Linked DNA regions of Homo sapiens. The protein of the gene in region 3 purifies or fractionates together with the protein of the main gene of each other region. This does not show direct contact. Each region holds a gene or a part of one and is shown on either strand. Other genes may lie near its edges. The genes, in order: DNAJC19, ATRAID and SLC37A3.

Region 1 (3,748 bases), on a different chromosome or scaffold from region 3:
ATCCCCAAACCATAAACAAACCTGCAAATCCTGCAGCAGCAATGGTCAGTCCAACTGCTACCACTGTACTGGCCTGGTAAGGGGGAGAAGAGTAAATATTTACTTCTCTAATTCCCACCCTTTCTCATTTTGCCCATTCTTCCATCCCCAACTCATTACAAACTGCATTTTAATAGGAGAAACAACTTTTTTTTTTCTTTTTTTTTTTTTTTTTTTAAGAGACGGAGTCTTGCTATGTTGCTTAGGCTGGTCTTGAACTCCTGGCCTCAAGCAATCCTCCCACCTTGGCCTCCCAAAGTGCTAAGATTATAGGCATAAGCCACCATGCCTGGCAGAGAAACAACTTTTAAGGCGGAAATATTCTGTCCAGTAATCTTTAAAACTACTGCATCTGTTATGCTGAATGCATTAAAGTTACAGGATTCATCATATGGGAAAGAGGGCAAGTTCGACTTGCTTATTTATCTTTACAATAGTGAAAAAGATGATTCCCTCCCTTTGAAAACTTCTTTCATCACCAGACAAATTAAGTCACATTAAAGTTCAATCAAAAGTAGTGGAAATAGGCCAGGCGCGGTGGCTCACGCCTGTAATTCCAGCATTTTGGGAGGCGAGGCGGGCGTATCACTAGGTCGGGAGATCGAGACCATCCTGGCTACCATGGTGAAACCCCGTCTCTACTAAAAATACAAAAAAAAAAAAAATTAGCTGGGCGTGGTGGTGGGCGCCTGTAATCCCAGCTACTTGGGAGGCTGAGGCAGGAGAATGGCGAACCCGGGAGGCGGAGCTTGTAGTGAGCCAAGATTGTGCCACTGCACTCCAGCCTAGGCGACCGAGCAAGACTCTGTCTCAAAAAAAAAAAAAAAAATGTGGAAATAAGGTTTCTGCTACAGAAGGAAAAACTGTTTACAGACGGCTCCTGTAAAATTCTAACAACGCATTTTCGAGGCTAAACGTGGGCTAAACTAGGAGACTAATACCTTTGGCACTGCCCTGTTGTTTCCTAACAAGACAGGCCCAAATATGTTCAGGAAGCATGGAGAAGACATCTGTCAGCAAAAGCCAAAGAGAAGGACATAGCAAAGTGGAGCTAGTGCTGTGAAGATGTGTTAGGGCAAGGGCACTTATAATCAAATACGTTTCCACTAATCTCCGAGTCCATGACAGCCTCTGACCTTACAGGAGTTCCAGGCAAGCAACACCTGCAGAGCCCGTGCGGACAAGAAGCTGGAGAACCGTGCAGAAAGACGATGTAAAAACACAAACCCCCAAGAGAGCGAGCCAACAGGGTTGTGTCCTGGTGAGTGTGACTCCCCAATAACCGAAACCTCCCGCCCGCAGTCGCACTAAGGAGCACAACTTCAACTCCACACCTCCGAGGCGGGGAGCTGAGGTTGAGGCCTGGGCCGGAGGTCGCCAAGAAGACCGGAAGGCCGCACTCACCATGGCTCCGGCTGGGCTCCCTTGCTTCCACCGGGAGCACGGCTCATCCCAGCTCAGAGGCCGCGGCCAACACCTGCACGCCTTTACCAGAGAGCGACGCAACCCCCAACCTCAAGCACAGGCGCCCTACGCAACACGGCAGGAGCAGCCGCAAACTAGGCCGGAAAACTGTCGTAAAAGGGGACGCGGAGGAGAAGGAAAGTCGCTCAAGCAGTGGACAGAGCGGAGAAAGCGACTTCGGGTTGGTTGAAGGGTGGGCGGATCTCTTTATTTCTGGGTGTAGGGGTGGGGCTTCTCTGTGTTTTCTGTCCTTTGCTCCTGGGCGGTGGGTATTTGGAAATTCTTGCAGGGAAGGGCATGGGCAGCCTTACTCAGACCGATTTTTTCCCCCTACATCTTAGCACCTCGTTTTGCCTTTATTTTATGTTAATAATTGTCAAGGGTAATGAATGTAGTTAAACATGCTGTGACATTTCCACCACGAACCCAAACAAATATGTTGTAACCCAGTGTAGGAAACGAGATGCCCAGAAAAACAAATGAAACCAACCACACTGTGTTTCAGGGATTGCTCGGTAGCATTTTTTAATGTAAAAGAACTTCATTTAAGGATGTGACTTGACAAGACTTTGTGAATATTTGGGTTTTCGTTTTGTAGAATGGGATTAAAGACAGTTCATATTCTGAACATGGAATGTCAAGATCCTACAACTGAAAAGGGCTATTTAAAAGTTTTCCTCCTCACCCAAAATAAAAAGTAGGGCTGGATTTTGCCCTTACGTGGACATCAGTTTCATACATCCCTACATAAATGCTTGAGAAGAAAAAAATAATGGAGACAATAATGGAATTTTACAATGCAACGTTTGCATGATCAAAATAAGTTTGGAGTTACTTCCCACTCAGAATTTACAGTGTTAAATATCCGTTTACATTGCAATGCAATTCTGCTTTGATGAGTTTGTTAGTTATTAAACAAATATGCAAAATTTTTGGGTTTGTTTTCCTCATCTGTAAAAGCAGTTTGCATTTGATAATCCAAGAGCTCTTCTAGCGCTAAGGTTTTTGTGATGTAATTTATTGTCAACACATGATTTAAGGTGACATCCAGCACTAAGACACTAGCATTAAGTTTATAACTTCCTCTTTTGCCTCTCTTTTATCTGGTTTTTACCCAACAATTACAAAATAAATAATCAAGTGAGGCATAAGACCTTGGGACCAAATTGGCATCAACAAGCTAGAATGCTATCTGGAAAAATTTATTATGCATATTTTTGGTATGTACAAACTGTGTAATGCAGTTTCTGGAGGAATAGATTTACAGTAGACTCTAATTAGCTTTGAGACTTTACAAAACCCAGACTCAGGAAATTGGGAGTAGCAACACAGCAAGACATTTTGTTGAGCTGGAGATAGCTCTTTTTTTGGTGGCAGATCAAACTGGAGGTAACCTGGCTCTGTCACTTACTAATACTGTGACTTGGAAAAGTTATTTCTGATTGAGTTTCTTCCTCATTTGTAAAATGAAGGTAATGATAACTACCTTGCCGAGTTTTTGTGAACGTAGAGATTATGCACATATTGTGTTCTGCTTATGGTCATCACTCAGTGTGGGGCTATTATTATGAGGGAAGCCAGAGTGCAAATTGGAGTGTAGAAGCCTTCCTCATTCTCATGATACCTCACTCATGAATCTTAAGTCTGGTTGCCTCTTACCTACCTGCCAAGATCCTAGAAACAGCCTTGAAAAGTAATCTTTTTAAATGTCCACTGACTGATGAATGGATAATCATTCCTCATTTCTTCTAGCTTCTGGTGACTGCCAGCATTCCTTGACTTGTGACTGAATCACTGCAGTCTTGTAAGCCAGCATCTTGAAATCTCACTCTGCTCCAACTTTTCCATCTTCACATTGTCCTTCTCTTCTGTTTGTAAAATCTCCTTCTGGTTTCCTCTTAAAGGATATATGTAATTGCATTTACCAGCTACCCAGATAATCCAGGATAATCTCCCCTTCTTAAGATCCTTAACTTAATCATAGTTTCCAACACTTTGCCATATAAGGTAACATTCACAGGTTCCAAGTATTAGGACCTGAAATCTTTGGAACACATTATTTAGTTTACTATAGAAAGTAATAAAAGACAAAAGAGGGGGTAGGGACAAAAGAATGAGAAAGGACTCAAGCACATCTTCTTAGTTTCTCATCCCAAATTTTTAAATCAGGTAAGTCACTTCTCCTTGGGAAGAAATAAGTGAGAGTTGAGAGCGGTAGCTAAGAGTGTTCTTGCACTGTGGCTTT
Region 2 (3,748 bases), on a different chromosome or scaffold from region 3:
CGGTGAGCCGAGATCATGCCATTGCATTCCAGCCTGGGCAACAAGAGTGAAACTCCGTCTCAAAAAAATAAATAAATAATAATTTAAAAAAGGTATTACTCTGGAACTTAGTAGTAGTAAATATTCACAAAAGATGTTGGAATTGAAGGATGGATATTTCCTAATTTGGTAGAGGAAGGCAATTTCAGGTATGGAGAGAGGCCTGAACAAAGGTGGAATGCCTTTGAGGGCAGGCAAATCTGGCTGGTGCAGACCATTATGGAGGTTTGAGCGGACAAGTAATTGGAAATAATGTTGGAAAAGTGGGTTGGGACTAGTATGGTACTTAATGGTTTGAATTTTGTCCTGAGACAAAATTTAATACTAAATATAGTATTAAAGCAAGAGAGTGATAATGGAAAATGTTGGTTTTCTAAAAGCTTAATACAGAGAAGTATTTAGGTAGATGAAGGAAAGAAGAGAATGGAAGCAAAACATAACATTTTGAGTTTGAAGTTAGGGTGCACTCAGTAGGAAATGCTTAATAGGAAGCTAGAGGTACCCGTATGTACCTGGAGTGTGGAAAGGTTAAAAAAGACACTAAAGAGATCTAGTTTTGGTAGACATCTGCGTGATGATTACAGCTGAAACCATAATAGGTGGATTCTTTAAATAATATAAGGGTATAAAAGCAGCCAGGCTAAGGAATGGCCTGTATCCAGCATCTAGGGATGTCTTCCCCTCACCCCAAGATGGTGCCCTTCTGATTCAGGCAGCAACGGGCATGCAGCATTAGCTCTCGTGTCGTTTTACAATAAAAGGCCACTTTTGACAAATTTTGCACGCTCCCTGGACATTGGGTGCATATCTGCAGAAGAGAAAGAAACATTAGAACTCCAGAAAGAAAAGCCAAGAAAAGAACAAACGGCGATCAAGAATTAACTGCCAGTACACGTTTCCAGAATTCCTCTAACACGGGGCCGATAAATGGATAAACGGCTCGTGTCCCACCCTTGTAACAGGCTAGGCTAGGAGATGCCATCTCTTCCTCCAGAGTCCTGCGCCGAATCAGCTCCCGACACTTTCAGTACCAGATATCGCACAGGGAAGGTCCTCATCTCTGAAGATCACTATTCGAACTTATTTATTATGCTTTCTGCAGAGACTTCTCAATCTGACAGCCCTAGTTTGGCGCGGTGTAAAACGACCGCAGGTACGTAAAGAACTCATCAAGCATTACAAAAGTACAGCCCTACCACCGCACGATATATGGCGTTCGTGCGTAGAGAGATTACACAAGAGGCAGAGGACCCGTCTGTAGAAAGAACTTAAAGTTATTCTAAAATTAAGGGGCGAAATCAAGTTTCACAGGTCTTTGAAAGTCGGCAGGACTGGGGCGCCGAAGGCCTGCACGACGTGAGTACTTGGGAACAGGACCTGGCTGGGCAGGGTCGGGAAGCGTCAGGGACGAAATCAGAACCGCAGGCCCGCCGAGGAGAAGGGGGAGCCGCTGGCGAGCGCGACGCACGGCTGGCCAGCGACCCTGCTTCAGCCCGACCTCAAACTTGCTTCTGTACCTCGGGTAGCGCCAGAGCCCTTTCCACGCCCAGAGCGAGGAGCAGGGCGGCAGCCCAGGGCACCAGGGTCGTAAGACTACCCGGGTCGTGAGGCGCCATTTTCCGTTCCCTTGGTGCTCCGCTGCTCGCGCGACCCGGCCCCGCGGCCCCGCCCCGCAGCGCGTCAGGCCCTCTTCCCCGGGCGTGGCCTAAGCGGCCCGGTCCAGTCGCCCTGGGGCTGCTTGGGGGCTTTTCCTGCTCGTGGAGCTCTGCGCTGGTCTTCATGCGCCCTAGCCCTCTTTCGGGGATACTGGCCGACCCCCTCTTCCTTTTCCCCTTTAGTGAAGGCCTCCCCCGTCGCCGCGCGGCTTCCCGGAGCCGACTGCAGACTCCCTCAGCCCGGTGTTCCCCGCGTCCGGACGCCGAGGTCGCGGCTTCGCAGAAACTCGGGCCCCTCCATCCGCCCTCAGTAAACATGGCGGCACGGCGAGCGGGGCGGGCAGGGGGCGGGCAGGGGGCGGGGCCCCCGCGGGCTCCCGGCCAGGGCTCTCGGCCGGGCTCTGGCTACCCACGTGTGGAGACCGGGCAGGTGGGCCTGGAGAGCGTGAGCCGGTGCCGAGAGGCACCGGGGAGCGGCGTCTGAGCCGGGGCGGGGACAAGGGGGCGGGGAGGGGCGGAGCGAGCCGGCCTCCGGCGTGGGTCTGAGATCTTAAGTGCGAGCGGTAAGGTGGTGGTCTCCGCCGCGTAGAGGGAAGCGGGAAACCGAGAAAGAACGAGGGTGAGGGTGATGAGGGAAGGGCAAACCTCAAACTCCAGCGGGAGGACACGAGCCTGGATCGCCCCGGGCACCTAGTCCTCTTCACCTCAATGCTGATAGCGCATAGCGTCCCGGAGCCTGGCGAGGAGGTAGGAGCGGGATAGACGCTTCCCTAACTCATTTTCTTTGCCTTCCCAGGAAAAGGGAGCGATGTTGATCTCAGGAAGCACAAAGGGACCTTCCTAGCTCTGACTGAACCACGGAGGTAAGGGAGTGCGTTGCTGCCCCAGGGTGGGCCAGCGCCCTGACTGAAGGGCGCCAGGGGATCCCTGCTCCCGGCGCGACAGTGTTGGTTAGGGCCAGCCAGAAAGCTCCTTAAAGCCGACCCAAGTGATCATCTCGAGTAGCCGAGCCAGGCTTCCCTTCCACATTACCCCCATGGTGTCTGCCTGGAAGTTCCTGAAAGGTTTACGTTTAGCTGGCTGGCAAATTTTCTAAGGTGTTAGTAGCTATTAGCATTTTAAGGAGGGCCCCCAAAGCCTTTCACACCTTGAGGAATTATAGGCCCCAGGACAGATTTTGAGGGAATCTTTTTGGAACAGTTAGTCCTGCAGTGGTCTCATTGCCTTTTGTAGGAGTCAATGCGATCCACTGCAGTGTGTGACCAAAGTGAGTTCAGGTTTTTATTTTTATTTTTATTTTTATTTTGAGACGGAGTCTCGCTCTGTCGCCCAGGCTGGAGTGCAGTGGCGCGATCTCGGCTCACTGCAAGCTCCGCCTCGCGGGTTCACGCCATTCTCCTGCCTCAACCTCCCGAGTAGCTGGGACTACAGGCGCCTGCCACCACGCCTGGCTAATTTTTTGTATTTTTTAGTAGAGACGGGGTTTCACCGTGTTAGCCAGGATGGTCTCGATCTCCTGACCTCGTGATCTGCCCGCCTCGGCCTCCCAAAGTGCTGGGATTACAGGCAGTGATGTGGGACCCCTTTTAAAAACCTGAACTTGGCCTGGCGCGGTGGCCAGGCCACCGATCCGCCAAGGCAGGTGGATCGTCATGTCAGGAGTTTTGAGACCAGCCTGGCCAATATGGTGAAATCTCGTCTCTACTAAAAATACAAAAAAAAAAAAAAAAAATTAGCTGGGCGCGGTAGCACATGCCTGTAGTCCCAGCTACTCAGGAGGCTGAGGCAGAAGAATCACTTGAACCCAGGAGGTGGAGGTTGCAGTGAGCCGAGATCGTGTCACTGCACTCCAGCCTGGGCGACAGAGCGAGACTCCGTCTCCAAAAAAAAAGGGGGGGGGGTCCCACAATCTGCTGTTTGTGCCTTGGCATGTTATAGTTGTAGTGAAACAACAGCTAGCTCTTGCTTTTGGCCGCCCTCTTTCTGGAGAGATGCGAGACCATAGCGTTTGGATCAATGTAGGGTGTTTAGAAAACTACAGATCTGTTCTCAGA
Region 3 (3,748 bases):
CTGATACCAGACACTTATGGGCCACTCTTTGAGATACAGTCAGAGATTTTTGGATACACAGGAAGCAGAGCGAGTGATTCAGAAGCAGCTGCAGAGTCCATGGCCATGTCTGGCGGGGCCCAGGAAGGAACGTGTATGCAGTAGAGTGTCTGGGAGAGGGAGACGGGAGACAGCAATGGTGGGGTCCACATGCCAGGTGGGGATAACAAGAAGCACCCCCCACCACGGAATACCAAGTTCAGCCTGGAAAGAAAGAAGGGGATGGTGGGCTGGGGCAGAAGGATCTGTCTGTCTTACGAGGTCTTAGCTTATTTGCAGACAGGAAGAATCTAGAAGTATAAGTAGAAAAAAGGAACTAAAAACAATGGAGAGTCCTTCTACATTAGGACGCATCAGCTGGTCCTGAGGGGAGACGGAAGTCCTTGGGCTCTGGGAACAGCGTTCTACAGCACAAGAGTGCCACCTACTGAGGCCCAGAGGGCAGGTTCACATTCAGCCGCCTTTGAGGGAAGACACTAGAATCCCAGCCCCTCTCCTGTTCTCTCACCTGGCCCACTGCAGCTCCAATGCTCCCCGAACCATCCACAATTCCTGTGACAGTGGCCAAAGCTTCACTGCTCCTTTGGATGAGCTCCTGGCGACCCAAGTCCGCAGAAATAGCAGAACTAATCATATTAGAAGGTCCACCAATAAAAAATCCTGAAGTCATAAACAGGTTCTTATTAAAACACAATTCACAACCACTAGCAATCTACTGCATAAGGCAAAATAATATCCGAATAGTTTTCTTAATATGTTGGAGAGAAGTGGAAAAAAAAGGAAACCCCCAGATAGTATCATTTTCAAACTATTAGTAGTTAACATCCACGTTCCTGAAATCCCTTCTCGAATTATGTGACACTCTAGTATATTTTGTAGAACCCAAAGATACAAAAATAGTGAAACACATAGCCCTTCTAATCCTGTGAAGTTTACATTCATTAATAACTAATTGCACTAGCTTGTCAAATAAATTCTATTACGGTAGTTGCATCATATGATCATTCCACTACACAAATTCAACCAGGAATATTGAAAAAAAAGAGCAAAGAGGAAAAAGCCACTGCAATGGAGCAGGTGACTCTATCTGCCACTGCTCTCAGTGAGGCTGCCCATGAATCAGGCATGCGATGGCCCAGGTGAATCTGGTCCCACTGCTGGAATCAGTTCCATGTACCCCAAGTAGAATGAGCAGCTCACTCTCCCAAGCATGATCTAAAGTTTAAAATAAGTAACTTTTCTGGCCGGGCGCAGTGGCTTATGCCTGTAATCTCAGCACTTTGAGAGGCTGAGGTGGGCAGATCACCTGAAGTCAGGAGTTCGAGACCAGCCTGGGCAACATGGTGAAACGCTGTCTCTACTAAAAATACAAAAATTAGCTGGGCATGGTAGCAGGCGCCTGTAATCCCAACTACTTGGGAAGCTGAGGCAGAAGAATCACTTGAACCCAGGAGGTGGAGGTTGCAGTTAGCTGAGATCGCACCACTGCACTCCCATCTGGGTGACAAGAGCGAGACTCCTTCTCAAAAATAAAAATAAAATTAGAAAGTTTAAAATAAGTAATTTTTCTGGCTGGGGATGGTGGCTCACGCCTGTAATCCCAGCATTTTGGGAGGCCAAGGCAGGTGGATCACCTGAGGTCAGGAGTTTGAGACCAGCCTGGGCAACATGGTGAAACCATGTCTCTACTAAAAATACAAAAATTAGCTGGGCGTGGTGGTGCACGCCTATATTACCAGCTACTCAGGAGGCTGAGGCAGGAGAATCACTTGAACCCAAGAGGTGTAGGTTGCAGTGAGCTGAGACTGTGCCACTACACTCCAGCCTGGGCAACAGAGCAAGATTCTGTCTCAATAAATAAATAATAAATAAAGTAAGTAATTTTTCTATAACATAGTCCCTAAATGCACCCAACTATTTTATCTAGTGCTCAAGTGACAAAATGCTGACCAATTCCAACACAGGAGGAGACACGAGCTATTGTGGATTTTTTTGAAAGCTGGTGAATTGGTCTCCCATGTGGCATTTTTCTAAGTCACTTTTAGAGGTAAGAGCAGAAGCTGGGGCAGCAATCAAAAATCGTAGAAAATCTCTGTCAATAGGGACCGCTTCTGTCACAATAGGACTGAGGAGGTCATGTAAGAAACAGCAGAGAAAAAGAATCTGGAAAAGGAGGCGTTTTTCCTTTTAAAATTTGAATTCTCTGTAATTAAGGTTTCGGTACTACTCAAATTGAGGGAGAAAACAGTTTCCCTTTTCCTCTGAATTTACAGAGCAACAGAAGCATGGTGGAGCAGAGCCATGTGCCGTACCTGTAACAGTCATCAGAAGGGCATTGATGGACTTATCATTTGGAGAACCTGTGAGGGAAGACACAGACAAACCATGGTGGCTTGAAAAGCAGACTCCACGTGCCTCTGCCAACCGTACGCGAAGATCTGAATCTCCGTGACCTCACAAATCACTCCCAGAGACAACAAAGAGACACAACTCTCTCTGCCTCTTTCAACTCTGATTTGTAACGTCTGCCTCTTGCTAATGCTCAAGCTAACAAGACTTCTAAAAGCTAAAGAAAAGCTCTACTCCTGTCTCAGCAGCATCTTAAGGGAATATACCAAACCTACTAATTACCATCTTTCCGCTTTTGAAACCTGTTCCCTTTTTATTGTTTTATTGGCTATAATGCTGTGCCTCTGGAGCCTCCCCCAAACAAAGCATATACACTCCCAAGCAAGCTTTTAAGCAAATTAACAAAGCAAAAGAGATGCCAGTTTCCTCCCAAGACAAATAAAACTATGTGATGACAGGTTTCCCAGGCATTCACAGGACAATGCAAAGGTGGCATATCGGGCCTTGAAGCTGGTCTCCAGGCTCTCCCCAGCACTGGTCACTGACTCCAAACAAATGCCTTATTCCAACCAGATTAGGGGAGCAAAGGAATTAGTAATTGCAAAAGAATACTCACGACTATACCCGATGAGGGACCCAACTGCCAGAAGCAGACTCAGGGCAAGAACCGGCGCTCTCTTCTGTAGTACATCAGAGATGAAGCCTTGCAAAGTTCCACCTTCAAGCAGAGTGTCGAGCAATCAAAATCACTTCTAATTTAGCTCGCTCACCTGAGGCGTGCTCCCCATTTGCCCTCTAGTCTCACTAGCAGCAGCCTGACACTAGTCTATCAAAAAATATGGCTGGGCCGGGCTCGGTGGCTCACACCTGTAATCCCAGCTCTTTGGGAGGCTGAGGCAGGTGGATCACAAGGTCAGGAGATGGAGACCATCCTGGCTAACACAGTGAAACCCTGTCTCTACTAAAAATACAAAAAAATTAGCCGGGCGTGGTGGCGGGCACCTGTAGTCCCAGCTACTCAGGAGGCTGAGGCAGGAGAATGGTGTGAACCTGGGAGGCGGAGCTTGCAGTGAGCCGAGATTGCGCCACTGCACTCCAGCCTGGGTGACAGAGCGAGACTCTGTCTCAAAAAAAAATAGGTCTGACTCCCTGAAAAGGGGTCCTCCATAACTTCCTTTTAGGAATAAACTGTCTGTTAAATCACCATGATGACCAGTGGGGACAGGAGACCACAAATCAGACAGCAAAACATGAAAAAAGGAAAAACTGTCAAAGCCATCGGCTATCCCTTACAAAAACAAGTTGTGAATGCTATTTTTGATTTTTCTTTTTAATTTGAAAGATAATGAATTAAGAACTA

Evidence for each region.
Region 1: the proteins of SLC37A3 (region 3) and DNAJC19 purify together in Homo sapiens (affinity purification with mass spectrometry; 3 studies listed by BioGRID and IntAct, with this or other methods). This does not show direct contact.
Region 2: the proteins of SLC37A3 (region 3) and ATRAID purify together in Homo sapiens (affinity purification with mass spectrometry; 4 studies listed by BioGRID and IntAct, with this or other methods). This does not show direct contact.

The regions. Positions count from the first base shown.
Region 1 is NC_000003.12:180,988,157-180,991,904, forward strand, and holds the start of DNAJC19 (mitochondrial import inner membrane translocase subunit TIM14), read right to left. Parts: upstream 1,581-3,748; 5' UTR 1,447-1,580; coding exon 1,444-1,446; exon of another isoform or gene 1,176-1,443; intron 74-1,175; coding exon 22-73; intron 1-21. UniProt on the Homo sapiens protein: Mitochondrial co-chaperone which forms a complex with prohibitins to regulate cardiolipin remodeling.
Region 2 is NC_000002.12:27,210,276-27,214,023, reverse strand, and holds the start of ATRAID (all-trans retinoic acid-induced differentiation factor isoform c precursor), read right to left. Parts: upstream 1,984-3,748; 5' UTR 1,656-1,983; coding exon 1,557-1,655; exon of another isoform or gene 1,417-1,556; intron 1,396-1,416; exon of another isoform or gene 1,237-1,395; intron 848-1,236; coding exon 726-847; intron 1-725. UniProt on the Homo sapiens protein: Promotes osteoblast cell differentiation and terminal mineralization. Plays a role in inducing the cell cycle arrest via inhibiting CCND1 expression in all-trans-retinoic acid (ATRA) signal pathway.
Region 3 is NC_000007.14:140,342,865-140,346,612, forward strand, and holds part of SLC37A3 (sugar phosphate exchanger 3), read right to left. Parts: intron 3,107-3,748; coding exon 3,005-3,106; intron 2,400-3,004; coding exon 2,352-2,399; intron 700-2,351; coding exon 548-699; intron 1-547. UniProt on the Homo sapiens protein: Unlike the other SLC37 members, lacks glucose-6-phosphate antiporter activity.